Regions from separate parts of the Homo sapiens genome. Here all the other regions are linked to region 1. The links come from fine-mapping of genetic effects on gene expression. A gene starts in region 1. Each other region holds a variant in brackets. All regions are shown on one strand. Distances are between the middles of the regions. Region 1 holds the start of CTBP1-DT (CTBP1 divergent transcript). Region 2 overlaps LOC105374347 (a long non-coding RNA gene). Region 3 overlaps MAEA (macrophage erythroblast attacher, E3 ubiquitin ligase).

Region 1 (9,922 bases):
GGCAGAGAAGGCAGGCCCCCAAGAGGGAGCCGCACAGCAGCATGGAGCCACTGGGCTGAGAGCACGGGGCCAAGAGAACCTCCCCCAGACAGACAAGGCCCGTCACCCACAGGTTGAAACAGCTCCTCCGACGACAGCACCCCAGACAGACACTGCCCAAGTCATCCACGAGCCGATACGGCACCTTGGACGGCAGCATCCCTGTGAGCCAGGGAGCCACCGCACTCCACGGGGCCTGCAGGGCCGCATCACAGCTCAGAGGACACAGCGCAGGGGCTGTGATCAAAGGCATGGATTTGCCAGCAAGATTCCTCTCCAGGACATCCGTGGAGCCGCACGTTTCCCTGTTTGTTCAGCGAGCACATGCACACAACCTGTGAGCTCCAGGAACCCCCAGAACGCCACCTTCCTGGCTCCTACCACATGTGGGGTATCAGGGCTACACCTTCCTCCCCTTCCCAACACAGTCTACACACGACACCACTGGAGAGACAGCCTCGGATGCCTCTGAGGCTCCTGCCAGCCACGCAGACAGGGCAGCCCAGGAGCCCCCACACCACAGACGGGCGGCAGGTCAGGGTGGCACAGGAGGGCACGGTGACACGGGCGGCAGGGAAGAGTGGCACGGGAGGGCAGGGTGACACGGGCGGCATAGCAGAGTGGCATGGACGGGCAGGGTGACACGGGCGGCAGGGCAGGGTGGCACGGGTGGGCAGGGTGGCACGGGCGGGCAGGATGGCACAAGCAGGTCAGGGTGGCACGTGTGGGTAGGGTAGCACGGGTAGGCAGGGTGGCTTGGGCCACACCAGGCCTGGAGAGTTAACGGCGGTGCCAGGGGAGGGTGCAGAAGGGGCCTGGTCCCAACACCGCCCACACCTCTCTCAGGGCCATAGCCCCAACGCCTCCCCAACCAAACCAACTGGGCTTCCCTCAGGGCCATCCTCACTCTCCTTCAACACCCGTGAGAACTGGTACCACCTGGGGCCGCCCAGAGAGACAACTCAAGGTTAACGTTTGGCTCGGCAAAGAGCCACCAAGAAATTTCTGGCTTCACAGGGAAAAAAACGAACATTTCCTTGTGGGAGATACCACATGGAATGTGTGGCCGGAGGGGCTTCTGGAAACGATGGTCAGTGACGCAGGTGGCACCTTGTGGGTTACCACGACCCAGTGCGGGGGAGAGCAGTGGGCTCCGGCCACTGCAGCTGACAATGGAGGACCCGGGGGTCCAGACACTCCCGGCACAGAGCTCTTACCCACAACTACCAACATCCAGCGACCACCAGAGGACCCTGGCGCTCCACCCGGCGCTCCGACCAGCGTTCCCTTGGGCGATGCAGTTCAACCACAGAACCCGTATGACACTGCCTGCTGCCTCTACCACCTCCTGGCCACCCCTGGGCCCTGGGCCAGGCCTGCACCGTCAGCACCACCTGGATGGAGCCCTCTCCAGCCCCCAGTGGAGTGGGAAACATTAAGTCCTTCTACAAGGAGAGTCAACCGGGGTAAACACCTCACAGGGCACACACCTTTGACTTGGGCACTGCATGGGGAGCACCAGGGCACAGCCGGGCACAAAGTGCTGCCTGAAGAGTTCTCAGCAACACTAGTGGTGCCAGCCACACGCCTCTTGGCTCAGTGACACCACCGTCAGCTCAGACCAGGTCACATTCTGGGGGTACTGGCCGCAGGAAGTTGAGAGGGCAAGTGACAGTCAGAGGAGAAAAACCAGAAAAACTGCCAGGCTGGTGGGGAACCAGGTGTGGCTTGACGGCCACCTCTAAGCCCCGAGGGAAGAGACTGGGCCTCTCGAGCCTGGGGCCCGTTTCCTGGAGAGCATGACTACTTCTGTCCAGGGTTCCTCCAGAAAAAATTTATTAACAGAATGATGGTTAACAGTTGCTGTCTGCTTACACTACAAATGTCCAAAGAGTGGGGGGCTCCCAGCCCTTGGGGGAGGCAGACAGGACGAGCCAGCACTTCCAATCCCACCAGGACATGGCAGGGGGCCGGCTCTGCGCCAAGCCCACAGGACTGGACCAAGGCTCGTCCCACTCATCAGAGGGACAGGACCAGCCCACAGTCCTGTGCACCCCGGGCCAAGCCTCTCCTCCCCCACTGCCACGTTCTCAGGTTAATGACAAGCGAGTAAAAGGGAAGATCCTACTCGCTGACATCCCCAACCACACGCCCACCTCTCAGAACTAACAGCTGCCCTGGTCAAGGCTGACAGGAAGAAGTGCATGTTGGGGACATGGCAGACACCCCAAAAATGGCCGGGCAGGCGGACGAGGCACCCCCAGGAGTGACCAGATGCCACCCCCAGTGCGTGTCCCTCCCAGAGCTCTGCAGAGGACGCCTGTATGGAAGCAGGTGCTCAAAGATGGGCAACAGAATCACAGAGAGCAAAAGGCGTCTGCGGAGCCGACAGCCCCAACCAGGAGCCAAACCCAGACCCCAGAGGGAGGTGGCCAGGCCCGGGCAGGCAGGGGAGACCTGGGAGGCCGGGTGCTGAGGCCCAGGGCAGAGCCACGCCCTACAAAGTTCCAGGACACAGAAAGGGGGACCCCCAAACCGCAGCTGTCATCCTCAGCTGCAACGGCAAATAGTTACCCCACGGTTCTCCCCCAACCCTGCCCCAAGCTGCAGACGGGTACACAGACGCGCAAAGGCCACGCGCTAGGAGCTCAGCGAGGACGGCCGCGGTGCGGGCCCAGCCGCCAGCGCCGTTTTCTTCCCGAGGGACGTGTGCTCCCTGCCGCGCTCCTACAGAAACGGTGGAGAGGCCGGGGAGGGGGGGGGGGCTCGGGCTCAACGGAACACCCTGCGCACCCGCCGCCTCGGCCCTAGCTCCAGGCCCTCTTGCCCCAACTCTCAGGGTTTCACCTCCCCACTCAGGGCACCGGGAAGGGCGCGACCGCCTTCCCTTTTCCCCACTGGAAGGGAATTCTGTCCCGGCAATCACGGAGACGACAGCAAAAGGGATCTGGCCCAGGCCGGGCTTCCAGACACCGGCGCCCTTGGAGGCCGCCAGAGAACGCTCCAGTCTCGGCCCGGGGCTCAGGCGCACGGACTCTGCCTTTGCAGCCGGGTCGAGGGAAAGAGAGGCTCCGCGCAGCGGCTCGGGCCGGCCCAGGACGCGGGCGCTGCAAGATGGCGATGGTGGCAAGCCCGGCGCCCGCCCGTGCTCCCTGCTTCCGCGGCCGCAGCCCGCGAGGAAGGCGCCCCGGGACCTGGGCGGGCCCAGGCAAGGGCAGGTGGGGGCGCTGGGCCGGTCCGGGACCTCGCGGAGTTCGCGGGAACGGAGACCCCGGGCCCTCCCGCGTCACCGCCGGGGGCTGCGCTTTGGGCCCGGTCTGAGGGCAGCGGCCTCCTCCACGGTCATACCCGGCACCCGCGCCCCGTCCCCTTCCCCCACAGCGCGCGGCCACGGTCGCCGGCGGCCTCCCCGCGGGAGGCGCGCTCCCGCGAGTGGCCCGGGAGCGCGCGCCCCAGGACACCCCGAGCTGCGCACGGCTCCCGCCCCATCCCGGCCCCGCAGGCCCAGCCACGGGGTCATGACCGGGGACGGGGTAGCGGCCGGGGATCGGGACCCGGGGTGCCGTCCCGGGTCCGACGGGGCTGGGGTCGGTGGAGCTGGGGGTCCGGCGGGGCAGCCCAGAGGCCCACAGGCCCTTTTGTGTCACCTGCACGGGCCGCGGGCGGGGAGAGCAGACTGCGGCGCTCGCGCACACGCAGCGGCCCGCGCATGCGCAAGACCCTTCCCGCGGTCCCGCCCCCGACCGCGGCCACGCGCGGACGCCGGCGCGCACGCGCACTCGCACACAAAGCCGGCGGCCCGCGGGCGCGCGCTCGGTCCGCCCCCGCGCCCCCCGCCCGCGCGGCACCCGCCCCGCCCCGCCCCCGCCCGCGGCCGGAAACGCGCGCGCGCGCGGCCTTACCAAGCGGCAGGCCCTTGTTGAGCAAGTGCGAGCTGCCCATCGAGAGGCGCGAGCGGCCGCGGGCCCCGACCACTCCGGCGCGCTGCGCCGCCGCGAGCCCGGCGCGTGGGGCGGCCTCGGCGCCGTCCGCTGCTCCGCCCGCCCGCCTGCGCCTGGCCGCCGCCGTGCCGAGTCTCCGCCGCGCCGCTGAGCCGCGCTCCGACGACCGCGCGGGCGGGGACACGGCGGCGCGCGCGGGCGGGGCCTCGCGGTTGGTCTCCTGGTTCCCAGCGCGGGCGGCGCACGGACTCACGCGGGCGGCTCAGGGCCCGCCCGGCCGGGACGCGGCTGCGGGGCGGGGCGGGGCGGGAGCCTGGCGGGAAGCTCGCGGGGCTGCAGCCCGGCGGAGGCCCCGGGCCTGGTGTTCCGCACGTTCTAAACCGCCTGTCCCCGAGGAAGTCGGGCAGGGTCGGGCCGGACTCAGCGCCGCTGGCGGGAGCGCCGTCCGCCCCGAGGACCCTGCGGGCCCGGAAGCCGAGACAGGGCCGCCCACGTCAGCGCCTGGCGCGGGCCCGAACGTAAATGGCGCTCCTCCGCGCCGCAGCCGCAGCCGCCCCGCTCCCTTCCCGCTCCGCCAGCTGCCGCCCTCCCGCGCTCGCTTCTCGCCCCGCGGCCTGGCCCGTGCGCCTCCGAGGCTGGCCAGGGGCACCGAGGCCGCGGGCCCCCCATCGCCCCCACCCGAGCCCTGATTTACCGTCCGAGAGCCGGCGGCACATGGGACCCCGAGAGGAGAAGCGCGCCTGCCCCAGTGCGTCCCCAGGCGGGGGAGCCCCGACTCCTGGAGGGACCGCGTCCTGCCCGGCCCGGGAAGTTCAGGGCTGGAGAACCCCTTCCCCGACCCCATTTCTCTTTTAACAAGAGTAGGGTTTGTAGCTAACCAACGTCCTGACAGCTCAGCTCTGCTTTCCCTTTAAGCATTAATATCAAAGCCCTGCCTGCTACCGGTGAAGCCCCGACCCGGGAGGGCCCGAAAGTCCCTTCAGGGAGAGGCCGCACTGGGCCTGCTCACCCAGGGGCTGCCCCTGCAGACTCTCCCGAGGGGCCCAGGGATATTCCTCGCGCCGCGAGTGGACGCTTCCATCCACCCCATGGGGAGGGCCTCTGCGCGTGGCTACTCTGAGCCCTCTGGAATGCCGAGATAGTTGCATAATTTCAGAAACCACGGCATGGAGACGGAATGATGCAGACTCCTATCCGCGAGATACCTGCTGTAATTTCGCTGTGGTTCGTGAGGACGCGTCCTGGGCTGCCCTGAGAAGCCTACGTCTCCCCTTCGAGGCCCGGGAAGACCTCCAACCCCGCTGACAATGCTGGGCCCTCAGCCAGACCTGCCCTGCGTGCCACGTTCTGTTCTAAGATCGGGCTGCCGAGCTGTGGCCTGGAGGAAACCTGGCAGGTGTCACCAGAGCTTTGGGGAGGGTGAGGCCCTGTCGGGGAAGCCCAGTGGGAGTCATGAAGGAGGGAACACGTGTGGAGCCCTTGTAGGGGGAGGGGCAGCCCTGCAGAGATCTAAGAAAAAATTCCAGAAAAATGAGCAGCAACCTCCAAGGCCAGGCATCGGTGCAGGGGACAAGGGGTCGTAGCTGGAGGGGCCTAGGTGAGGCTGCCGGGAAGGGACGATGTGGTTGGTGGAGTGCACAGGCAGGGACCTCACTGGACTTTCCTGTCTGCTCAGCATGGACAGGCAGCCCAGGAGAAGGCAGCACGTGGCCGGGTGCAGGGACGTACCACCCCCACTTCCCCAGGGGAGCTGGGGTCAGACGAGTCCCAGGCACTCCATCCTCTGCAGCAAGTCAGGTTGTGATTTACTAGGGGGTGGTGAATATAATGGAGAGACTTCTGGGGAGGAATTCCTGGCTCCCGCGTGGACTTGCAGAGCTCAACAGGCAGCCACGTGGCTGAGTGTCCAGCAAACATCACATAAGGCTTTGGGTCCTGCAGGTGGGGCTGCCATGAGCAGCAAGCTCAGTCCAGAAGAACAGTTCCTCTCCAGGATCCACTTCCTGCGCACTTTTATGTGCAGTGTAGCTGGAGCAGAGCTCCCCGGAATTCCACAGGCAACTGAGAACGGAGAGGGATGCAGGCCAGCCAGGGATCCAGCGTCTTCCCCATCGTCACTCTCCATGGCCTCCGTCTACACACAGTGTTCGTCTGCACAGCTTGTCAGCGCGTTATCATGACTTCTATTTGGCACCGGCCCGTCTGTCCACTGTCCTGGCTTGTTCCAAGCGCTGCCTTCTCCAACTGGGGTCCTGGCTGCAGAGCTGTCTGCTCCCCACGTTGGGCAACTCCAGCCAAGATTCCTACACCCAAATGTGACCGTGTTGCTCACGAAGAAGGCTCAGCTTTGCGTGTGCCCAGCCGTGTGCACAGCTCGTCCCAACTCCTGCGGGTGGCACCTGCCTCTCCCACCTCCAGTCTTTCCCCTGTGATGAGCAGATGACCACCGCCCTCCAGGGTCAGCGTTTGGCTGTTTGTGTGCCTGCCCACCCGCCTCCCTGTGCCTGGGCCTGCCCTGTGCCTGCACACAGGAGTGGCTCATGGCGTTTGCCCTACACGGATGGGCTGTCCTGGGAGCTACTGGACAGTCACCTTGGTGGGAATGCCAGAGGCATGGGCATTAGGTCCCCCCGGCCAGCCTCCGTTGCCACATGGGCTATTTTTGTCCATCGCGTGGGACAACCTAGTATTGGGGGAAAACTCAGTCCACTCTAAAGAAGCATCGGCGTTTTGGATGGACGAATGCTGCTTCATGCGACTCCATGTCAATGGACTATTTTATTCAACTCGGGTATTTATGAGTGTCTCCTCTGTGCCAGCCACGTGTGAAAGAAGAACTCCAAGTTACTGGACACCAGGACAAACCAGGTAGATCACTGCATCCGGTTCCTCCTCTTTCTGCCGACTCTCCCGGGCAACCGTTCTGATTCCTGGCATGGAGTTGGGGGCGAGCTCATCAGTACCCAGAGCGCCTGGTGTGCAGCCAAAGGCCCCCATTTTATTAGTCGGTGTGTTCAGTATCACGCTCAAGACAAGGGCCAACCTATTACTTCACACACCTCAAATACAAAAAGTGCCTGGGAACGTCGATGAGGTATTAAAGGAAACCACTGGTCTTGTCAGTCATGTACACACAGAAAAAAAAACCAGTCATTTTTATTTTTATTTTTTGAGACAGAGTTTCGCTCTTGTTGCCCAGGCTGGAGTGCAATGGTGCAATTTCAGCTCACTGCAATCTCTGCCACCCGGATTCAAGCAATTCTCCTGTCTCAGCCTCCCGAGTAGCTGGAATTGCAGACACCCATCACCACGCCCAGCTAATTTTATGTATTTTTAGTAGAGATGGGGTTTCACCATGTTGGTCAGGCTGGTCTTGAACTCCTGACCTCAGGTGATCCACCCACGTCAGGCTCCCAAAGTGCTGAGATTACAGGCATGAACCACTGTGCCCAGCCGAAAACAACCAAGAATTTTTTAACAATAAAATGACCAGCAAGTAAACTTGAAACAAAAATGGACAAATATCTAAAATATTTTTAAATGTATGTATTTTAATTGGCAAATAATACTTGTATATATTGTTTACAACTTGTTTTAAAGTATGAATACATTGTGGAATGGCTAAATCAAGTTAATTAACATGCATTAACTCACATACTTTTTGTTTTTTGGTGTGGTGAGGACACTTAACATCTACTCTCTTAGCAATTTTCCAGTCACCATGTCCTACTATAGATCCCTAGAACATATTCCTCCAATGTAACTGAAATGTATCCCTTGACCAACATCACTGCCCGGCCCCAGCCCCAGGTAAACACCATTCTACCCTCTGCTTCTGTGAGTTCAGCTTTTCTAGATTTCACCTGTGAGTGAGATTGTGCAGCATTTGTCTTTCTGTGCCTGGGTTTTTTCACATAATGCCCTTCTGGTTCATCTATATTGTCATATATGGTAGCATTGTCTTCCTTTGTAAGGCTGACTGGTATACCATTGCGTATATACACCACATTGTTTACCTAAAATATTTTTTAATACAATCGCTGAAAACTGCCACATAACTTGTATAACTGCTGTAAGGCTTGGTTTTCAGCCATAAGATGGGAAGAGAAGTAACATCTACCTTGCAGGATGACTGCAAGCTGTAAAATGCCACAAAGCGCAGGGGAGCCCAGAACCGCCGCAGCAGGACAGGTCCTCTGGAAGCAGACAGACCTGCCTTGTTACTTTAGCCATCCAGAGTCCAGTTTAGCCAGTGATGAAATGAGTACAAAAGAACACCTTTCTTGTAGGATTGCAAAATGATGTCTTCATCCATTCTGTGCTGCTATAGCAGACTCCTGCACACTGGGTAACTGACAGCTTACAGAAGCTTGTTGGCTTATGGTTCTGGAGGCTGGGAAGTCCAACCTCAAGGGGCTGCATCTGGTGAGGGCTTTCTTGTTGCATCATCACATCGCAGAATAGCAGAAGGGCAAGGAGAGAGAGAGAAAAGAGTGCTGAACCCACCCTTTGATAAGAAGCCCACTCCCATGATAATAGCACCAGCCCATTCAGGAGGGCAAAGCCCTCGTGGCTGCATCGCCTCTCAAAGGTTCCACCTCTCAAGATCATCACAATGACAATCAAACTTCATGAATTTTGGAGGGGACAATTATTCAAACCAGAACAGAGGGGGATGGCAAATGTTCTGAAAACAAGCCTAGAAATTGATCTTAGAAATGGTGCAAAAGTAGATTTCCCCTTCTGTCTTTACCTGTGATGGTCTAACCCCAAAAGCCTCCCAGAACAGAACTTGTGAGCACAAGATAGAAACAACAAACTTGATGCAGAGCTGAGCTCACAAGGAGGTCAGGGATGTGACAGGAACCAGAGACAAACAGAAGGCTGAAAACCAGGTCTTAAAGTGTGAGAGCCAAAGGGCAGCAGCCCAGGAGAGTGTTCGTCTGGAGCCCCGGGGTTTAAGTCTCCACACTCACATGGGAAAGGAGACGAGGCCTCCCTGGATCCACGTGAATCAGGAACTGGAACAAGGGCACTCAAAGGGCTACGCCATCAGGAGAGATGTGAATGAGTGTGCCCACAGGAACAGGAAGACAACAGGATGGTTCTGTGTTTGCCTGCCTGTTGTGGTTCTGTGAGACAGAAACAGTTTTGATGACAATTGATAATCAGGACTCAGAGCCTTGTTAGACTTCAGGTATTGAATTTTTTTTTGAGACAGGGTCTAGCTGTGTTGCCCAGGCTGGTCTTGAACTCCTGGGCCCAAGTGATCCTCCTACCTTGGCCTCCCAAAGTGCTGGGATTACAGGCATGAGCTACCGTGCCCAGCCTAGGTATCGAATTTTCACAGGTTTCACAGTCCAGGCCCTACCACCCCTGCAGCAAATAACTTGATATAAAACCTGGGCCCAGGCTAGTAATACCCTTGAAGCCCATGACAGAAGCAGGCACAGTGATAGAAGCAAAATCACGTAGACATTATCAATCTAGCCCCCTCCAATTCCTACCCATAAAGCCCACTGAAGATGAATTTACAATCATAAAGTACAAAACATGCCAAGAAAGAACCACATGAGGGAAGTCAGCAGATGTGTGAACAGCAGGAACGGACTCCGCCACCAAAGGCCTTCAAAAGGTGAATCAAGCAAAAAAGAGAACATTAATTAAACATGTTTAACATGGGTAAGAATTACAGGAATAAAAGAAGTAAATGAACAAGAATACGATTGCAAGGGAGTGGTAGAAGAATAGGCAGTTTTGAAGAACTAAATGGAATATCTAGAATGAAAAACCATGCTTGCTAAAATTAACTCAATGAGTGAGTTTAAAAAGCAATTTAGACCCAGCTGAGAGCTGAATTTGTGGTATATGCAGAAATTACTTCTGATGCGAGGCAGAGCATGATGACAGAATGAGGAGATCCCAAACATCTATGAGAGTTC
Region 2 (9,922 bases), 32 kb after region 1:
AGATCCAAAAGAATTGAAAGCAGATACCTGTACACGAATGTTCATAGCAGCATTATATACAATAACCAAAAGCTGGAAACACCTAAGAGTCCGTCCACAGAGGAATGGATACACAAAGCTTGGTCACACATACAATGGAATACTATTTAGCCATGAAAAGGAATGTCCATGGGACATTCTCCAGGATAGACTACATGTTAAGCACAAATTAAGCCTCAGCAGATTACAAAGGATAGATATCATACAAAAGAATCCTGTCTGACCATCACAGTATAAAGTTAGAAATCAGTACCTGAAGAAAAATTGAAAAATGTACAAAATTTATAAAATTTACAAAATTTGACTTTGGGGCATGCTACAAGATGGGTGGACCTTGAAAACATTATGCTTAGTGAAATAAGCCAGACCCAGGAGGACAGATGTTATTCCACTTAGATGAGGTACCTAGGACAGGCAGCCTAATAGAGACAGAAACTAGAACTGATGTTACCAGGGGCTGGGGGCAGAGGGGAACGAGGAGTTCTTGTTTAATTGAGGCATCGTTTATGTTAGGAATTATGAATGTTTTGGGTATAGATAGTGGTATGGGTACCTAACATTGTGAATATAGCTAATGCCACTGAATCGTACACTTACGAATGATGAAAATGAGAAATATTATGGTACATATTTTTTACAAGAAAAAACTATCTTTTAAAATTCCTCAATTTTATTTAACAACAAATAACAACATCTCTAGGCCAGTGTCCAGTCTTCCCCTGAGGTGCAATGCCCAGAGAGGAGCCCTGCCTGTGGGGTGGCCCCTCACCTGGGGTGGGCAGTACCCGGGAGGCCCAGATGCGGCATGAAGCTGCCCCAGGTGGGCAGATGGAGACCCCGTGCCAGCGGCAGTCACCTCCCATTTCCACCCCCATCCAGCAACTGTCAGTCTGATCCTGTCCCTACGGATTTGCATTTTCTGGACATTTCCTAGTACTGGAGTCACACGCTATACACTCTTCTGTGACCGGCTTAGCTCCCTTAGCTGGTGTTTTTGAGGTTCACCTGCATTGTGGCACGTGCTTGTGTTTCACTCCTTTTCATGGCTGCATGATATTCCGTCATGTGATGGGCGATGTGTTGTTCATTTATTCACCAGTAGATGGGCACCCGTTTCCACATTTTGGCTGAATAGTGCTGCTATTACATGTGTAAACTTTTGTTGGAATGCCAATTTTCAGCTCTTTGGGGTATCTACGTAGGAGTGAAATTGCTGACTATGCTAACTCTGTTTAACTTTTGGGAACCTGCCAAAGTACCTTCCACAGCAAGTGCATTCATTTTGCACCTACCAGCAAAGTAGGAGGTTCCCACTTCCCACAGTCTCCTTGACGCTGGCCACTTGGATTTGGCTTCCTGGCAGCTATGAAGCCATGTCTCAGTGTCACGATTCACCTTACCTGGTGACTCATGGTGGTGAGCCTCTTTCAGTGACGAATTGGTCATCTGTAAGTCTTCTCAGCAGAAATGTGTACTCAGTGCTTTGTCCATTTCTTAAGGGGTTGTCTTTTTGTTGTTGAGTTGTAAACACTATATATTCTGTCTCCAAGTGTCTTATCTAATATGATTTGCAAATATTTTCTCCCATTCTGTAGGTTGTCTTTTTGCTTTCTTTGTAATGTCCTTTGATGCACAAACATTTCTAGTTTTGATGAAGTACGATCTTTCTGTTTTTCATTGTGTTGCTTGTACCTTTGGTGTCATAGCTGAGGATCCTTTGCCAATTGCGCCCTGGACTTCCCAAGTCATGCTCTGCCCTGGCCTCTGCGTCCTCGCTCCTCCCTGGTCCTCTGCGTCCTCGCTCCTCCCTGGTCCTCTGCGTCCTCGCTCCTCCCTGGTCCTCTGCGTCCTCGCTCCTCCCTGGTCCTCTGCGTCCTCGCTCCTCCCTGGTCCTCTGCGTCCTCGCTCCTCCCTGGTCCTCTGCGTCCTCGCTCCTCCCTGGTCCTCTGCGTCCTCGCTCCTCCCTGGTCCTCTGCGTCCTCGCTCCTCCCTGGTCCTCTGCGTCCTCGCTCCTCCCTGGTCCTCTGCGTCCTCGCTCCTCCCTGGTCCTCTGCGTCCTCGCTCCTCCCTGGTCCTCTGCGTCCTCGCTCCTCCCTGGTCCTCTGCGTCCTCGCTCCTCCCTGGTCCTCTGCGTCCTCGCTCCTCCCTGGTCCTCTGCGTCCTCGCTCCTCCCTGGTCCTCTGCGTCCTCGCTCCTCCCTGGTCCTCTGCGTCCTCGCTCCTCCCTGGTCAAGGGCTGCATCCTTGCGTTCTGTGAGCTCTGCCCGTTGGGAGCATCCATGCTGATGTGCAGGGGCCGTGCAGCACTGCATTCTTCTTGCCTTCTCTGTTCTGTTTAGTACAACCACCCCAGCAGGTCTCCAGTTCCTGCCAGGTTAGTGTGGATGGCCCAGCACCATCTCCTCTCCATCTTGTTGGCTATCCTCTCTTGTTCCTCACAACCCCGCCAGGGTCGCGGCTCAGGAGCTCTGCCGTGTGAAGTGTGCTCAGCAGTTCTCCTCACATGTCTACGCAAAATCTCTGGCTCCCTGTGTGTCTGAGCCCAACAGACACACTGAGCACAGGAGTTGGCTCTCAGCTCCTCCCAGCTTGCCGTGACTGAGCCCTGCCGTCCTGTGGCACCGCCACGGAGACCACAGTGTCCAACTGTCCAACCTTTACGTAATTGGCATCCCAGGAGGAGAAGCAAGAGTGAATGGGGCAGGAAAAGATCATTAAAGAAATCGTGGCTGACATAAAAAAGGATGAGTTCATGTCCTTTGTAGGGACGCGTGGATGAAGCTGGAAACCATCATTCTGAGCAAACTATCGCAAGGACAGAAAACCAAACACCATGTGTTCTCACTCATAGGTGGGAATTGAACAATGAGATCACTTGGACACAGGGTGGGGAACATCACACACCGGGGCCTGTCGTGGGGTGAGGGGGATGGGGCAGGGATAGCATTAGGAGATATACCTAATGTAAATGACGAGTTAATGGGTGCAGCACACCAACATGGCACATGTATACATATGTAACAAACCTGCATGTTGTGCACATGTACCCCAGAACTTAAAGTATAATAAATTAAAATTAAAAAAAAGAAATCGTAACTGGAACTTTTCCCAATTTAATTCAAGAAACAAATCTGCAGATACGGCCGGGCAAGGCGGCTCACACCTCTAATCCCAGCACTTTGGGAGGCCAAAGCGGGTGGATCACTTGAGGTCAGGAGTTTGACACCAGCCTGATCAACATGGTGAAACCTTGTCTCTACTAAAAATACAAAAATTAGCCAGGTGTGGTGGTGCACATGGGTAGTGCCCTACGAACACAGAATTCTGAGGGGTCCACGAGGTGTGGAAGGGCAGCAAGGTTTCCAGTAAATACAAGTAAGGGTGTCACATCCAGGACGGAGTGAGCAGGGGCCCCAAAGCCCAGAGAGGCCATGCCTTCTGTTTGAACCAGAACATGCCATAAACACAGAAGAAACGGGAGTGCTAAGAAACACATACCCCATCATGTACTTCTTACGCATGGGACTTCCTCACATCAGAACTGCGTGTGCTTGCAATCCCAGCTACTCAGGAGGCTGAGACAGGAGAACTGCTTGAACCCAGGAGACAGAGTTTGCAGTGAGCAGAGATTGCACCACTGCACTCCAGCCTTGGCAAAAGTGCGAGACTCTGTCTCAAAAAAACCCCAAATCTTGCATATACAAGATGGTCAACGGTGAGAGACATCCCATCTGCACCTGTTCCCGGCACCCCAGCTGCATAGAGCATGGGTAGTTCCCCACGAACACAGAATTCTGAGGGGTCCATGAGGTGTGGAAGGACAGCAAGGTTTCCAGTGGGTGCAAGTGAGGGTGTCACATCCAGGACGGAGTGAGCAGTGGCCCCAAAGTCCAGAGAGGCCATGCCTTCTGTTTGAACCAGAACATGCTATAAACACAAAAGAAACAGGGGAGTGCCAAGAAACACATACCCCATCATGTACTTCTTACGCATGGGACTTCCTCACGTTAGAACTGCGTGTGCTGAACATGGTGGACAGGAGGAAAGATGAGGCAACCCACAGTTCCTTTTCCCTCCAGACACCCCTTACTTGTCA[G/GTAAGT]TAAAAGTAGAGGGCATTGGTAAAATATGTGCACATCAGAAATGAAATCACAGCTGCATTAGCTTCATGCAGCACTCCATGAAGAAGAACAAAACAGGTCTGTGCAATCGAGCTGGGAAGCACAGGCCTCGTGAGTTTGGTGACGCAGAGTTCGAACTAAAGCACTTACGTTTGCATTTAAAACTGGCGTCAGACAAATGATGGTGAACACTATGATTTGCTTATGTTTGCACTTAAAACTGGCGTTGGACAGGCTGGGTGCGGTGGCTCGCGCCTGTAATCCCAGCACTTTGGGAGGCTGAGGCGGGCGGATCACAAGGTCAGGAGATCAAGACCATCCTGGCTAACACGGGTGAAACCCCCTCTCTACTAAAAATACAAAAATTAGCCGGGCATAGTTGGCGGGCGCCTGTAGTCCCAGCTACTCAGGAGGCTGAGGCAGAAGAATCGCCTGAACCCAGGAGGTGGAGGGTGCAGTGAGCCACGATTGCACCATTGCACTCCAGCCTGGGTGACAGAGCAAGACTCCGTCTCAAAAATAATAATAATAAATAAAAATAAAAATAAAAAATAAAACTAGCGTTAGGTGACGATGAACACTACAATTCGTGTGAATAACTGCTTATTTTTCTTTACTTAGAATGACATTAAATGATGAATTTTAAAAATGCCATGATGTGGGCCAGGCGCGGTGACTCACGCCTGTAATCCCAGCACTTTGGGAGGCTGAGGTGGGTGGATCACACGGTCAAGAGATTGAGACCATCCTGACCAACATGGTGAAACCCCATCTCTACTAAAAACAAAACAAAACAAAAAAACAAAAATTAGCCGGGTGTGGTGGTGGGCGCCTGTAATCCCAGCTACTCGGGAGGCTGAGGCAGGAGAATCACTTGAATCCGGGAGGCAGAGGTTGCCGTGAGCCGAGAGCACGCCACTGCACTCCAGCCTGGCGACAGAGTGAGACTCCAACTCAAAAAATAAATAAATAAGATAAAATAAAATAAAATAAATGCCATGATGCAGAGGCTGCAGTGAGCTGAGATTGTGCCACTGCACTCCAGCCTGGGCGACAGAGCAAGACTCCATCTCAAAAAAAACCCAAAAAAACCCACTATGATGGAAACAGTCAACAGAGGGTGGAGACGACCTGTTGAATGGGAGAAAATATTTGCAAACTATTCATCCAACAGGGGACTAAAATCCAGAGTATACAAGGAACTCAAGCAACAATAAAAAAAAAAATCCCACTAGAAAGTGGCCTGAGGGCACTTTTAGCCCCCAAAATAGAAATGTCTATTTTGGGAATAAACATATCTCAAAAGAAGACAGACAAACAGCCAACAGGTGTATGAAACAATGCTCAGCACCTCTAAGCATCGGGGAAGGGCAAGTCACCACCACGACGAGACGTCATCTTACCCCAGTTACACGGGCTCTTATTAGAGAGACAAAAAATAACAGATGCTGCTGAAGATGCTGAGGAAAGGGAGCTCTCACACACGGTGGGTGGGCGTGTACATTAGTGACGGCCGTACCGGTTAACAGTGAGAACGGTGGGTGGGCGTGTATTTTAGTGACGGCTGTACCGGTTAACAGTGGGAACGGTGGGTGGGCGTGTACATTAGTGATGGCCGTACAGGTTAACAGTGAGAATGGTGGGTGGGCGTGTACATTAGTGATGGCTGTACTGGTTAACTGTGGGAACGGTGGGTGGGTGTGTACAGTAGTGATGGCTGTACTGGTTAACCGTGGGAACAGCGGGTGGGCGTGTACATTAGTGACGGCCGTACCGGTTAACAGAACGGTGGTCGTGTACATTAGTGACGGCTGTACTGGTTAACTGTGGGAATGGTGGGTGGACATGTACAGTAGTGACGGCTGTACCAGTTAACAGAACGGTGGGCATGTACATTAGTGACAGCTGTACCGGTTAACAGTGAGAACAGTGAGTGTGTACATTAGTGACGGCTGTACCGGTTAACCGTGGGAACGGTGGGTGGGTGTGTACAGTAGTGACGGCTAACCGTGGGAATGGGTGGGCGTGTACATTAGTGACAGCTGTACCGGTTAACAGTGAGAACAGTGAGTGTGTACATTAGTGACGGCTGTACTGGTTAACCGTGGGAATGGTGGGTGGGTGTGTACAGTAGTGACGGCTAACCGTGGGAATGGGTGGGCGTGTACATTAGTGACAGCTGTACCGGTTAACAGTGAGAACAGTGAGTGTGTACATTAGTGACGGCTGTACCGGTTAACTGTGGGAACGGTGGGTGGGTGTGTACAGTAGTGATGGCTGTACTGGTTAACCGTGGGAACAGTGGGTGGGCGTGTACATTAGTGACGGTCGTACTGGTTAACAGAACGGTGGGCATGTACATTAGTGACAGCTGTACTGGTTAACTGTGGGAATGGTGGGTGGACATGTACAGTAGTGACGGCTGTACCGGTTAACAGAACGGTGGGCATGTACATTAGTGACAGCTGTACCGGTTAACAGTGAGAACGGTGAGTGTGTACATTAGTGACGGCTGTACCGGTTAACCGTGGGAACGGTGGGTGGGTGTGTACAATAGTGATGGCTGTACTGGTTAACCGTGGGAACGGTGGGTGGGCGTGTACATTAGTGATGGCTGTACCGGTTAACAGTGGGAAGTCCCTCCACCAACAGTGGAATTTCTCAAAAAACTAAAAGTAGAACTACCATCCAGCAATTCCACTACTGGGTATTTATCCAGAGGAAAAGATGCTTGGCCCAACCGAAGCTACCTCAAGCACTCACCTTGGCTGGGCCCCACCTGGGAGCAGGGAGGCCACCGTCCAGCACTGGCAGGTGTCCGGCCTCCTCCTCCAGGGAGCCGGGAGGCCTTTACTGGAGACATTTACAAACAGATGTTGTGAAGATAACAATTGTGTGGCTTGAGTCGATTCCACCTCTACAGCTAACCATAGGAACTAATTATAGTTTGTATTACTAAATACTTTTAAGGGAAAATCAGATGCTATTTTCTTACCAACAAAACAGTCAGTGCTCAAGCCCAGGAGTTTGAGACCAGCCTGGGCAACATGGTGAAACTCTGTCTCTGCAAAAAAACTTTAAAAATTAGCTAGGCATGATGGCATATGCCTGTAGTCCCAGCTACTCAGGAGGCTGAAGTGAGAGGATCGGTTGAGCCCGGGAGGTAGAGCCTGTAGTGAGCTGTGATCGTGCCACTGCACTACAGCCTGAGTGACAGAGCAAGACTCTGTCTCAATAAATAAATAAATAAATAAAAACCAACAGAACAGTGAACTGTGTAAAATCTTGTTACCTGATGTGAGGTACATGTTTCATTCATTCAAGAATTAAGTTTTTCAGCAGGTGTTAACCACCTCCTAAGAGATGTGTGGATCAAAATAACGACAGGGGCAACTCCAGCGCAGAAAACGGATCTGGCTGGGTGAGAGGAAGGGCTGTGTCGTGCAGCTTGGGGCAGAGTCACCCCCTCGAACTTGAGGGGGTTACCTTTAAGTAGCAGAGCCCTGACGTCCGTCCATCAGTGGAGATAAGAAGGGCCCCAGGATGTGGACCCCCTGCAGCATGTGATGTGAGCTGGCTATGACAGTGCGTCCCTGAGCCACAGGTCAGGTCCTCCCACACGGCCATGCAGGAGGCACCCAGCACCATCCGTCTCTGGGCTGCTTTTCTCTGCGTGCTCCTGGCCCACCCACACAAGGGAACCACGTGTGCCCCACAGCTCATCCCTGGCATAGCTGATTAGTCCAGATGGACAGCCAACCCACACTGGGCAAGACTTTGGAGCCTAAGATTTTGGAAGTTTGAACCAAGAGACGCAGAACATGGCAGCTGTTGAATGCTATACTACGACAAAAAGTATATTTGGTCTTGGTCCCTGGTTCCGGTCACCAAGTGTCTAAAACCCTTGCGATTTCCTGAGTGTGGGAGCGTCTTCTTTCTTCATAAGGAACTCCTTCCCACCACACCTGAGTTTATGTTAATGAAGTGACTCTGGGTGGGGCCTCCAGATATCACTAGAAAGACCCGGAGATTGGTTGGCAGGAATTCTCAGCCCCTCTCCCACTCCACCTCCACCTCTGGGGATGAGGGGGGCTGGGGATTGAGATATGAAAATGTGTGAATAATGAGATTCAGGAGAGCCTCCTGGCTGGTGGATGCCCCGAAGTGCTGAGCGGCTGCCGCGCAGAGAAGGCTTGGGAGCTCCTCGCCCCACCATGCCCGATGCACTCCCGTTAGCTATTCCTGAGCTGTGTCCTTCATAATAAGCTGGGAAGCATTAAGTGTTTCCTGAGCTCTGTGAGTCATTCTAGCAAATTATTGAACCTGAGGAAGGGTTTGTGGGAGCCCCAAATGTGTCATCTGCCTTGTGGGTGGCCTGGGCACCCCATGTGCAGCCGTCACCTGGAGTGGGGACAGCCTTGTGGAACGGAGCCCTTGGCCTGTGGGGTCTGTGCTAACTCTGCGAGTGAGTGTGAATGGGGTTGGATTGTAGGATAGCCAGTTGGTGGCAGAGTCTGACAGCTGGACAATTTCAAGTTATATAAACCAAAAATAAGATACTAAGCTCCCCCAACTGACTGAATGGAACCCCCTACCCCCACCTTCAGCCAAGGGGGTTTCAAAGAAACCTGAAAAATCAGTTCAGGACACGATGGCGGCGCATGACTTTTCTTGGTCACTTGTCAGCCAGAGACCCCCAGCCAGCGACACCCTTGCTCAGGCCCAGGTTTGCCACAGGAGATGCCCATTCACTTGGCCCATCATGTCATGCCAGGCCCGCACTCCAGCGTTTGCGGCTGTTCCGACTGTGCACTCAGCCCCCAGTGGGAGGGGGTGTGAGCGAGTGAGTGCGGGGTCCAGCCAACGGTTCCAAGTGTCAGCACAGACGCAGGCTCCATGCAGGGCTTGTGGCTGGACCAGGCATGTTGCAAGCCACTCCCATGGTGGACTCCGGCGTCCAGACAAGGGGAACACGGTGGCGCCCAGGTAGGGGTGCTGTGATCCTGAAGCCCCAGAGGGGGTGTTACAGCATGCTAATTAGCTCTTTTAGTCTGCATCCTGATGGACAGTGGTGCGTCAACAGCTCTGTCAGCCGCTTGCCCCGCATCAGCCCATGGCTCCAGGGCTGGCTCAGTCCCACTGCTGCTTCTGTCACATGGGGTGGCTGCCCTCTGCTGGTGAAGGGCAAAGGGTTATGGAGTTACAGCCTTCTCTGTATTCACATTTGGTGCATCCTGAGCTCTTGTCCCACGTCCAAGAAGAATGATGATACACTGACAATTGAAGGGTGAGGAGGATGGAGAAGAATTTTATTGAGTGACAAAGCAGCTCTCAGTGGAGCAGGGATGTGAGGGTGGTCCCCCACCTGAAGTCGGATGGTTTCTCTCTCCATGTGGCTGGGTTTGGGGCTTTCATGGGCTCAGAGTGCACACTGATTGGTTTGTGAGGATGCAAAAATGGCTAAAACAAAGGCATCACTCAAAGGTGGGGACAACAGTGTAAAAAGCAATTAGGGGCTGGGTGCGGTGGCTCACGCCTGTAATCCTAGCACTTTGGGAGGCTGAGGTGGGTGGATCACAAGGTCAGGAGATTGACACCATCCTGGCTAACACGGTGAAACCCCATCTCTACTAAAAATACAAAAAAAATTAGCTGGGCGTGGTGGCGGGTGCCTGTAGTCCCAGCTACTCGGGAGGCTGAGGCAGGAGAATGGCGTGAACCTGGGAGGCAGAGCTTGCAGTAAGCCGAGATCGTGCCACTGCACTCCAG
Region 3 (9,922 bases), 90 kb after region 1:
ACAGGTTGCACACATTCCAGATCATTCAAGTTGATTCACAAGTGAGTGTAGCAGAGTTAAGTCAGCACCAGCCCTGTGGCATGTTGAAATCAGAGTTAAGTCAGCACTGGCCCCACAGTGTGTTGAAATCAGAGTTAAGTCAGCACTGGCCCCACAGTGTGTTGAAATCACAGAGTTAAGTCAGCACTGGCCCCATGGCGTGTTGAAACCACAGAGTTAAGTCAGCACTGGCCCCACAGTGTGTTGAAATCACAGAGTTAAGTCAGCACTGGCCCCATGGCGTGTTGAAACCACAGAGTTAAGTCAGCTCTGGCCCCCACAGTGTGTTGAAATCACAGAGTTAAGTCAGCACTGGCCCCATGGCGTGTTGAAACCACAGAGTTAAGTCAGCACTGGCCCCACAGTGTGTTGAAATCACAGAGTTAAGTCAACACCTGCCCTGCAGTGTGTTGAAATCACAGAGTTAAGTCAGCACCTGCCCTGCAGTGTGTTGAAATCACAGAGTTAAGTCAGCACCTGCCCTGCAGTGTGTTGAAATCAGAGTTAAGTCAGCACCTGCCCTGCAGTGTGTTGAAATCACAGAGTTAAGTCAGCACCTGCCCTGCAGTGTGTTGAAATCACAGAGTTAAGTCAGCACCTGCCCTGCAGTGTGTTGAAATCAGAGTTAAGTCAGCACCTGCCCTGCAGTGTGTTGAAATCACAGAGTTAAGTCAGCACCTGCCCTGCAGTGTGTTGAAATCACAGAGTTAAGTCAGCACCTGCCCTGCAGTGTGTTGAAATCAGAGTTAAGTCAGCACTCATCCCGCAGCATGTTGAAATCAGGGAGTTAGATCAGCACTGGCCTTGCAGCATGTTGAAATCAGAGAGTTCCAGCACTCGTCCCGCAGAGTGTTGAAATCAGAGTTAAGTCAGCCCTTGTCCTGCAGGTGTTGAAATCAGAGCGTTAAGTCAGCACTGGCCTCACAGCGTGTTGAAATCAGAGACTTAAGTCAGAACTGGCCCCACAGTATTTTGAAATCAGAGAAGTCAGCACTCCCCCGACAGTGTGTTGAAATCAGAGTTAAGTCAGCACTCACCCCACAGCATGTTGAAATCGGAGTTAAGTCAGCACTCACCCCACAGCATGTTAAAATCAGAGTTAAGTCAGCACTCATCCCACAGTGTGTTGAAATCAGAGTTAAGTCAGCACTTGTCCCGCAGCATGTTGAAATCAGAGTTAAGTTCATACTGGCCTCGCAGTGTGTTGAAATCAGAGAGTTAAGTCAGCACTGACCCTGTAGCATGTTGAAATCAGAGTTAAGTCAGCACTCATCCCGCAGCATGTTGAAATCATAGTTAAGTCAGCACTCATCCCACTGTGTGTATCAGTCAACACTTGAGGGAGTTATGCTTTGTGCTGACCCTTAGTGCAAAGTGTGTGGGTCACTGGGGGATGGCTGTGGGCCGATGGCACCTGCTTCACCATGGTCCACGTTTTTAAGCTGTCCCAGGAGCTTCCCTGGGAGCATCCCCAGGACCCTCTGCTCTCTGTCTTCCAGGACCTTCTGGACCCTGCACGGTGGCGGATGCTGATCCAGCAGTTCCGGTACGACAACTACCGACTACACCAGCTGGGAAACAATTCTGTGTTCACCCTCACCCTGCAGGCTGGCCTCTCAGCCATCAAGACACCGTATCCTACCTCCCGTGCGCAGTGCGGTTTGGCCTGGGGTTGGCATCTTTGGTCATATTTTAACACGCTGACCCTGCACCTTGCCACTCTTGTCCTCCCACCACAGACAGCCCCGAGCTCCCGTGTGCTGCACTTGCGTGGTGTCTGGATGGTCGGGGTGGGGCCGTGTTGAGGGGCCTCGGATGCGTCGTGCAGCCTTCACTCTGGGAAGTGGCGCGCTTCCTCTCTCATCATCTCAGAGGCCGCCATGGGCATTGATCTAAAAGCCCGATTTTGATGTGTTCTGGCAGCCGGCAGATTACCATTCAGAATAGTTTTCCCGTGTGATTACCAAGAACCTTGCCTGTGACTGACTCTGTCCCGCCTGTGACTGACTCTGTCCCACCTGTGACCGACTCTGTCTGCCTGTGACTCTGTCCCTGCCTGTGACTGACTCCATCCTGCCTGTGACTCTGTCCCACCTGCGACTCACTGAGTTCCTGCCTGTGACTCACTCGGCTCCCGCCTGCAACGGACTTGGTCCCTGCCTGCGACTCACTGTGGCCCTGCCTGTGACTGAGTCTGTCCCGTTTGTGACTGATTCCTTCCTGTGACTGACTCTGTCCCACCTGCAACTGACTTCTTCCTGCCTGTGACAGACTCTGCCCCTGCCTGCGACTGAGTCTGTCCCTTCCTGCAACTGAGTCCATCCCGCCTGTGACTCTGTCCTCGCCTGTGACTGACTCTGCCCCTGCCCTGTGACTGTCTCACCTGTGACTGACTCCGTCCTGCCTGTGACTCAGCCTCTTACTGACTCTACCCCTGCCTGTGACTGACTCTGCCCTCTCCTGTGACTGACTCTGTCCCCACCTGTGACTGACTCTGTCCCCACCTGTGACTGACTGTCCTCCTGCAACTGACTCTGTCCCCGCCTATGAATGTCTTTCATGTGACCTGCCTCAGGCCCAGAGGGCAGTGAGTGTTTCGCGATTGCTGCTGGTACCTGGCTGTGCCGGGGTATGAATGAGACTCAGGCCCCCTCCCTTGTCCCCTCTTTGTGGAACTCTGGGCGAGAGGGCTGGCGTGCTTGCCCACTGCCTGTTCCTAGGTGCCAGCAGAACGTCCCTGCTGGGTGGCTCTTGTCCTGCCTGGAGAGGTTGCGTGGCCGGGGAGAGGGCGGCGGGCGACGGAGCCACTCTGTGCCTGTGGTCCTGGTGCTGGAGGCCGGGGTGAGAAGGCGCAGGCTTCTTGTCTCCACCGAGGCCTCAGTGGGGCTGTTTAGCTGTCGAGTGCAGCACTTCCTGTGCCTCGAAAGACAGCCCCGTGTAGTCAGCATGGCGCCCACATAGCCAGAAGGGCACGCAGCCCAGGGCAGAGTGGCCACAGGGGGCTGGGCTCACCCCGGCTGCCCTGAGTGGCCCCCAACCCTTCCTTGACCCGATGCTCAGACAGTGCTACAAGGAGGACGGCAGCTCCAAGAGCCCTGACTGCCCTGTGTGCAGCCGCTCCCTGAACAAGCTGGCGCAGCCCCTGCCCATGGCCCACTGTGCCAACTCCCGCCTGGTCTGCAAGATTTCTGGCGACGTGATGAACGAGAACAATCCGCCCATGATGCTGCCCAACGGCTACGTCTACGGCTACAATGTGAGGGGGGCAGGGCAGGGGGGCCAGGCTGGCACGCATCGCCATCGGGACAGGGCTGTGTGGGACGGGCAGGGCAGGGGGGCCAGGCTGGCACGCATCGCCATCGGGACAGGGCTGTGTGGGACGGGCAGGGCGGGGGGCCAGGCTGGCACGCGTCGCCATCGGGACAGGGCTGTGTGGGGCGGGCAGGGCAGCGGGGCCAGGCTGGCACACGTCGCCATTGGGACAGGGCTGTCCTCTCGCCCCACCCTGCCTTAGCTTCGTTCGAAATGGATGAAGGGGTGGGAAGGACAGGCGAGGTGGCCCCGGGATTTCTTTGGCAGGTGTGCCTTCGGGAAGGAACTTTGCCTGAGAGGATGAGTCATTCCCTGGTGGTTCATTGTGGGGATTTTCCATGGAAATCCGTGTGTACGTTGTAGTCGCTTGCCTTAATGCATTCCCGGTTTTATTTTTCAGTCTCTGCTTTCTATCCGTCAAGATGATAAAGTCGTGTGCCCGAGAACCAAAGAAGTCTTCCACTTCTCACAAGCCGAGAAGGTGTACATCATGTAGGCCCCACGTCGTGAAGCGCACGCCTCGGGGACGGGCTGCAGTGGGCGGGGAGGCCACGCCTTCCTCCTGTCCCACGCTCCAGCCTGCCGCGGCGTTTCTGTTTCTTGCGACCAAAGATCCGTGAGCAACGATAAATACTCTTAGGAAGAGAGAAAATAAGGTTTCATAAGTTTGTACTTGAAAACATTTGGATTGGTAGGATTTTGTAACACGTCAACCATTTGATGCTTCTGAAAAGTACTTTCAACTTGCGAAGGAAACTCTTCTTTAAAGACTGACCTAAACACCGAGGGAAACTTAAGAACGTTTAAAATATAGGAGTCCGTGATTTCCCTGTGTTTTCAGTTTCTTTCCTTCTGTGAACGATGAGACTTGGAGAACGGGCTGGTCCTTCACCACTTCCTGTTGGCCCTGGCCTGGCCGGGGAAGGTGGCAGCGGCACCGGACTGACCTGCAGTGACCCGCGATGCCGCGCCACGAGGGACACTTATGGCTTCATTCGAGAGCTGCTGCCAAAACGCCTGGCGCCGCCACCGTCGGGGGCTGGCTTCGAGGACGCCCGCCTGCCTCGCGGGTCGTGTCCGCGGGACTGTGTTCGTACGTGCATAGTTTCGATATCACATCGCGGGGCTGTGTTCGTAGCTGCGTCGTTTCGATATCACACCCTCTGTGTGCCGCCTTACTTCCTGCTTCGAGAATGTATAACGTGGAAATCCACGGGACCAAATTTCTGCAGAGGCCTTGCCGGATGGTTCCATAACTGTAGAGTCTAATTGCTATCCATTACAGAAATTAATCGTTCAGTTGAAAGAAGTACTGATGACTTTTCAAAACAAATGAACCACCGTAGCTGACAGAGAACCGTATCGTAGAGGTTTGTAGTTAGTGCTTATTTTTGCATGTTGATGTTGACTAGCTAATAAACTGTAAATGTAAACCATGCGAATAAAATGGTTTTCTATTTCTCATTTCCGTGTGAGCCGAGGCTGCCGTGCGTTTCTAACACCGAGGTTGTGTTCTGCTCCTCCCCGGGGCCCGGGCAGCATGGCGGGCATATGCGTAGCTTCTGGCACCACGGCCACCGGGAGTTGAGAAGCCGGCTGGAGGCCACTCCTGCCCGGACCGCAGTCCTCCTCTCGGGCGCTGCCCTGAGGCGTGATGGCCCCAGCGTCTTGAGGCCCCGGCTTGCAGCTGGGTGAATCAGACACTGGTTCCTGGGACCCACGGGCCATTGTCTGTTGGGGGTGGGGGCTCAGGCTGCAGCCACCAGCAAGCCTGGGCCTGCGGCTTGGGCTGAGTCTAGGGTTGGGCTAAGGAGGCCTGCGGGCTGTGGCCACTGGCCCTTCCCCCCACCGCCCACCCCTGTTCTCTCCAGTGCCCCGTCGCAGCTCCTGTGGCCAGCCTGGTGCCCCTTAGCCCATCTCTTACCCCATGGTGGCTGCCCTGGCCCCTCCACAGCACCCAGCTGGAACCCACCACATTCCCACGTGCTCTTCTTTGGAGCGCCCGTCCCCAGGTCCCCTCGGCCGAAGCAGACCCTGTGGCCCCACTGCCACGCAGC[C/T]GCCCCGGCCTCCACCGTCCTCACGTGCAGGGGCTTTCCTTGTCTTGCGTCCTGTTCTTTCCTTTTTAACTCGAGTAGAACATACTGGAGCACACACATTCTAAGTTCACATAACGAATTTCTGTGTAACATGCATGTAACCACCAAACAGACTGTTCCCAGCCCCTGGCCTTGCCCGGTCAATATCCTGGTCAGTCATCATTGGAGTGGCGCACCCCGGCCCTGAGCTCCTCGAACACAGAGCCACATGGCGTGGGTCCGTGGCTCAGCGTTACTCGGCGGCTCAGCCCTGGCACGGCAAAGTCTTGCCTGGTTACAGGCCTGTGCTCTCCAGGCAGAACAAGCGCAGCGGCCTGGCCCCTCTCCCGCCGGTGGACATCAGGCGGTGTCCAGGTAAAGCTGCTGTGAGCACTCCGGGAGGTGACCCTTGCTGGACGCATCATTCTTTTGTGGGGAGATGCCGAGGAGTTGCCATTGCTGGGCCACGTGTCCACTCAGCAGACACTGACGGTTTGTTAAAGGGGTTGCACCCACTTCTGCCCATCTGCTCCACATCCACACCAGCGAGTGGCACTGGGAGTCTTGAATGTGAGATGTTTTGTTGGTTGTGTTATCTCGCTGTACTCTTTCTCAATTGAGGTAAAAATTACATACACCAAAATGCACATACAAGTAAAAGCTACTCAATGAGTCTTAATAAATGTACCTCCATGTGACCACCACTGAAGCCCAGGCATGGAACGTCCCCATGGCCCCAGAAAGGGACCCCTTGTACCTTCTGAGTTATCCACAACCCCTACACAAAATCATTGCTCTAATTTTTGTCACCGTAGGTGAGCTGTGCCTCCATAGGTGTCAGATGGTGGAATGTGGACACTGGTGGATCTGGCTTGTTTCCACAGACGCTTGTGAGGTTCATGCCTGTTGCACATGTCAGCAGTTCCGTCCTTAGGTGTTGCTGAGTGGAGTGATAGTAATCCATGTATGCACAGACCACAGTGTACACCAGGCTGGAGTGCAGTGGCGCAATCTTGGCTCACAGCAATCTCTGCCTCTCGGGTTCAAGCGATTCTCCTGCCTCAGCCTCCCGAGTAGCTGGGATTACAAGTGCACACCACCACACCCAGCTAATTTTTGTATTTTTAGTAGAGACGGGGTTTCACCATGTTGGCCAGGATGGTCTCAATCTCCTGACCTCATGATCTGCCTGCCTTAGCCTCCCAAAGTGCTGGGGTTACAGGTGTGAGCCACTGCGCCCGGCCTGTATCCATTCTCTTGATAGACATCTGGGTTGTTCCCTATTTGGGGCTATAATAAGTAAACCTCTTATGAACATTTGTGTGCCAGTCTTCTTGCAGACATTATTTTCATTTCTTTGGGAAGTAATTCTCTGGAAGTAGAAGGAACTGAGTCATGGTGTGTTTATGTTTAACTGTACCACAACTGCCAAAGATTTATCCAAAGTTGGTGGTAGTGTTTTACACTCCAGCAGCAGTGTGAGGATTCCAGTGGCCCCACATTGTTGTCAACACTTGGTAGTGTCAGGTTAGTCATTCAGGTGGGTGTGCACTGGGGCCACAGTGTGATTTTCCCTTGCTTTTCTTTGATGTCTGATTTTGACCTGATGCGCTGATTGTAATTTACATATTTGTCTATTGCTCATTTTAAATTGCATTATCTTACTGATTTGTAGGGATTCCTCACATACAAATCCTTTGAGGGATATGTGTATTTATACTTTATTGACTGTCATTTGATCAGCAGATTTTTTAAGTTTTAGTGCAGTTCAATTTATTCTTTCTTTTGTGGCTAATGCTTTTCTATGTTCTAAAAAAAAAATCTGCCTATTCCAGGGTTGCAATAATATATCTTCCAGAAGATTCAGTTTCGGCTTTTAAGTCTGTAACACATCTCTTAACTTGTGTGTGTTGTGTGAGGAAGAGCCTGAGGATGATTCCCCACCATCCCATATGTTTACTCTATTGTTCTAACACCATTTGTTAAAAAGACCTTTCTTATCCCGTTGAATAACGTTGGCTCCATTAGAAAAAATTCCTGGCTGTGTTAAGTTGGGGTTTATTTCTGGACACTACCTTCTGTTAGACTGGCCTTTAGGTCTATCCTTGTCCTAACACCACATTATCTTAACTATTGCCGTTTTAAGGCAAATCTTGAAACCAGGGGGTATGATGAGTCCTCCAGTTCTGCTTTTTCAGAATGGTCTTGGTGGTCCTAGGTCTGTTGCATTTCCACGCACGTTGTAAAATCAACTCATCAGTGTCTGCTGAACACTGTAAAAAGTGTGCTGGGATTGTCACTGGAACTGCAGTGAACCTATCATCCCTATTTGGGGACGGTATTAGTTTGCTCGGCTGCCGTAACAGAAGACCACGGACTAGCGGGTTTAAACAATGGACATTTATTTCTTCACGGTTCTAGAGGAGATGCTGGCAGGGTTGGCTCCCGGTGAGGCCTCTCTTCCCGGCTTGCAGACGGCCCCCTTCTCACTGTGTACCTCTCGTGGTGGACTTCCTCCTGTGCACACACATCTCAGGAGTCTCTTCATCTTACGAGGACATCAGTCCTATCAGATGAGGGCTCTATCCCTAGAATCTCATTTAACGTTCCCCTCTTTAAAGGCCTCATCTCCAAATAAAGTCACATTGGAGGTTAGGGCTTCGACATAGGAATTTGGTAGGCAGGGGCCACAATTCAGTCCATAACAAGGACTTATAAATCATAACAATATTGAGTCCTCAACCCATGAATATGGTATATCTTCCTGCAGATTTAGATCCTTCTCGCATCTAAGGTATTGCCACCTCCAGGAGGCAGATCATGAGGTCAGGAATTCGAGACCAGCCTGACCAACATGGTGAAACCCTGTCTCCACTAAAAATACACAAATTAGCCAGGCGTGGTGGCACGTGCCTGTAATCCCAGCTACTCGGGAGGCTGAGGCAGGAAAATCGCTTGAACCCAGAGGGCAGAGGTTGCAGTGAGCCAAGATCGCACCATTGCACTCCAGCCTGGGTGACAAGAGTGAAACTCCGTCTCAAAAAAAAAAAGTATTTATAGAACTTTTCATTCCTTTTATAAAGTTTGCCTCTGGTATCATTTTCCTTTCATCTGAAGAGCATCCTATAACAGTTCCTGGACTGCAAATCTGCTGGTCATAATTCATGCAGCTTTTGTCTGAAAATGCTTTTACATCACCTCAGTTTTTAAAGGCTATATTGCTGCATATACAGTTCTAGATTGACAGTATTTTTTCTTTTACCACCTTAAAGATGTTCCATTTTCTTCTGGCTTTTTTTTTTGGGTGGAGGGGGAGGAGGGGACAAGAAATCCTTGGCTTCTTTGTGCCTGTATGTCATACGCCTTGTTTAATCTGACTGCTTCTAAGATTTGTCACTAGTTTTCTGCAATTTAAGATGTGCCTTGGGTGGTTTTCTTTGTTTATCCTGCTTGGGTTTTATCATCTCTAAGTTTCCATTGGTTCTTTTAAAATATCTTTTAGAAGTATCTTCTAATTCTTGGCTTGGTGCAGTGGCTCATGCCTGTAATCCCAACACTTTCGGAGGCTGAGGTGGGCAGATCACTTGAGGCCAGGAGTTCGAGACCAGCCTGGCCAATATGGTGAAACCCTGTTTCTACTAAAAATACAAAAATTAGCTGGGCGTGGTGGTGGGCGCCTGTAATCCCAGCTATTTGGGAGGCCAAGACACGAGAATCATTTGAACCTGGGAGGCAGAGGTTGCAGTGAGCCGAGATCACACCACTGCACTCCAGCCTGGGCGACAGAGCAAGACTCTGTCTCAAACAAAAACAAACAAGAATATCGTCTAACTCTCATCATGATTTATCTTGGCTTTCTAATCTTATCCAGCATTCAACAAATATTGAGCACCTGCTTTTTGTCTGGCTTCATGAAACAAAGATCCCTATTTTCAGGGACTGTATGTTTTAGGAGTGAAGAGAAAAAAGCGAATCACCTAGTAAGACAGTAAGTCTGTGTGACACAAGGGCCAGAAGTGCCCTGGGAACAAGCACGGCAGGTTTAGAAAACGGATGGGGGGTGTTGAGCCAGGGAGGTGAGCGGGTGCAGAAGTATTTGCTCAGGGTGAGACATGAGCAGTGGCTGGAAGGAGGCAAGGAACTCTGTGGATACTGGCAGAAGCTTCCCGGCAGAGGGATCCGCTCCCCAGAGGCCGTGTGGCAGCAAGAGCAGGCTGGAGAAGTCAACCGGTGGGATGCAGGGGGCAGCAAACACAGGCCACGACAGGTTTTGCCTTGCCCTGGGATGGGAGCCGTCGGAGGATTTTGTGTAGAGGAATCCTGTGATCCGACCTTAGACTTTCAAAGGTCCCTCTGGTTGCTGCATGATGGTCTAGGGGTACCAGGGTGCAAGGGAAAGACAAGGTGACGGCAGTGACCTGCTGCAGGGGTGGCCAGGAATTGGCAGTGGCAATGAGGCAGTGGGACGTGCTCAGATCTGGATGTGTTCTGAAGGT

The links.
Region 2: its variant is fine-mapped to the expression of CTBP1-DT in skeletal muscle (GTEx, PIP above 0.99). The same link has a PIP of 0.9 or more in tibial nerve.
Region 3: its variant is fine-mapped to the expression of CTBP1-DT in whole blood (TOPMed, PIP above 0.99). The same link has a PIP of 0.9 or more in lung.

What each region holds. Positions count from the first base shown.
Region 1 is chr4:1,244,975-1,254,896 of GRCh38, forward strand. It overlaps CTBP1-DT (CTBP1 divergent transcript), which reads left to right and starts at 4,466. Exons shown (of 2, transcript NR_033339.1): 1 at 4,466-4,498; 2 at 5,137-8,033. It overlaps CTBP1 (C-terminal binding protein 1), which reads right to left and starts at 4,156. Exons shown (of 10, transcript NM_001012614.2): 1 at 3,942-4,156. RefSeq lists silencers at 3,045-3,764, 3,935-4,864 and enhancers at 5,235-5,284, 5,345-5,434.
Region 2 is chr4:1,277,023-1,286,944 of GRCh38, forward strand. It overlaps LOC105374347 (a long non-coding RNA gene), which reads right to left. Exons shown (of 3, transcript XR_925046.3): 3 at 9,342-9,426. Among named protein-coding and RNA genes, the nearest start is that of MAEA, 7.9 kb to the right of the region's middle. The variant G/GTAAGT (reference allele first, on the strand shown) is at 4,135.
Region 3 is chr4:1,335,323-1,345,244 of GRCh38, forward strand. MAEA (macrophage erythroblast attacher, E3 ubiquitin ligase) reads left to right here. Exons shown (of 9, transcript NM_001017405.3): 7 at 1,539-1,672; 8 at 3,100-3,295; 9 at 3,752-4,815. The coding sequence ends at 3,847. It also overlaps a transcript of UVSSA not described here. Among named protein-coding and RNA genes, the nearest start is that of UVSSA, 6.9 kb to the right of the region's middle. RefSeq lists enhancers at 3,860-4,378, 9,603-9,922. The variant C/T (reference allele first, on the strand shown) is at 5,409.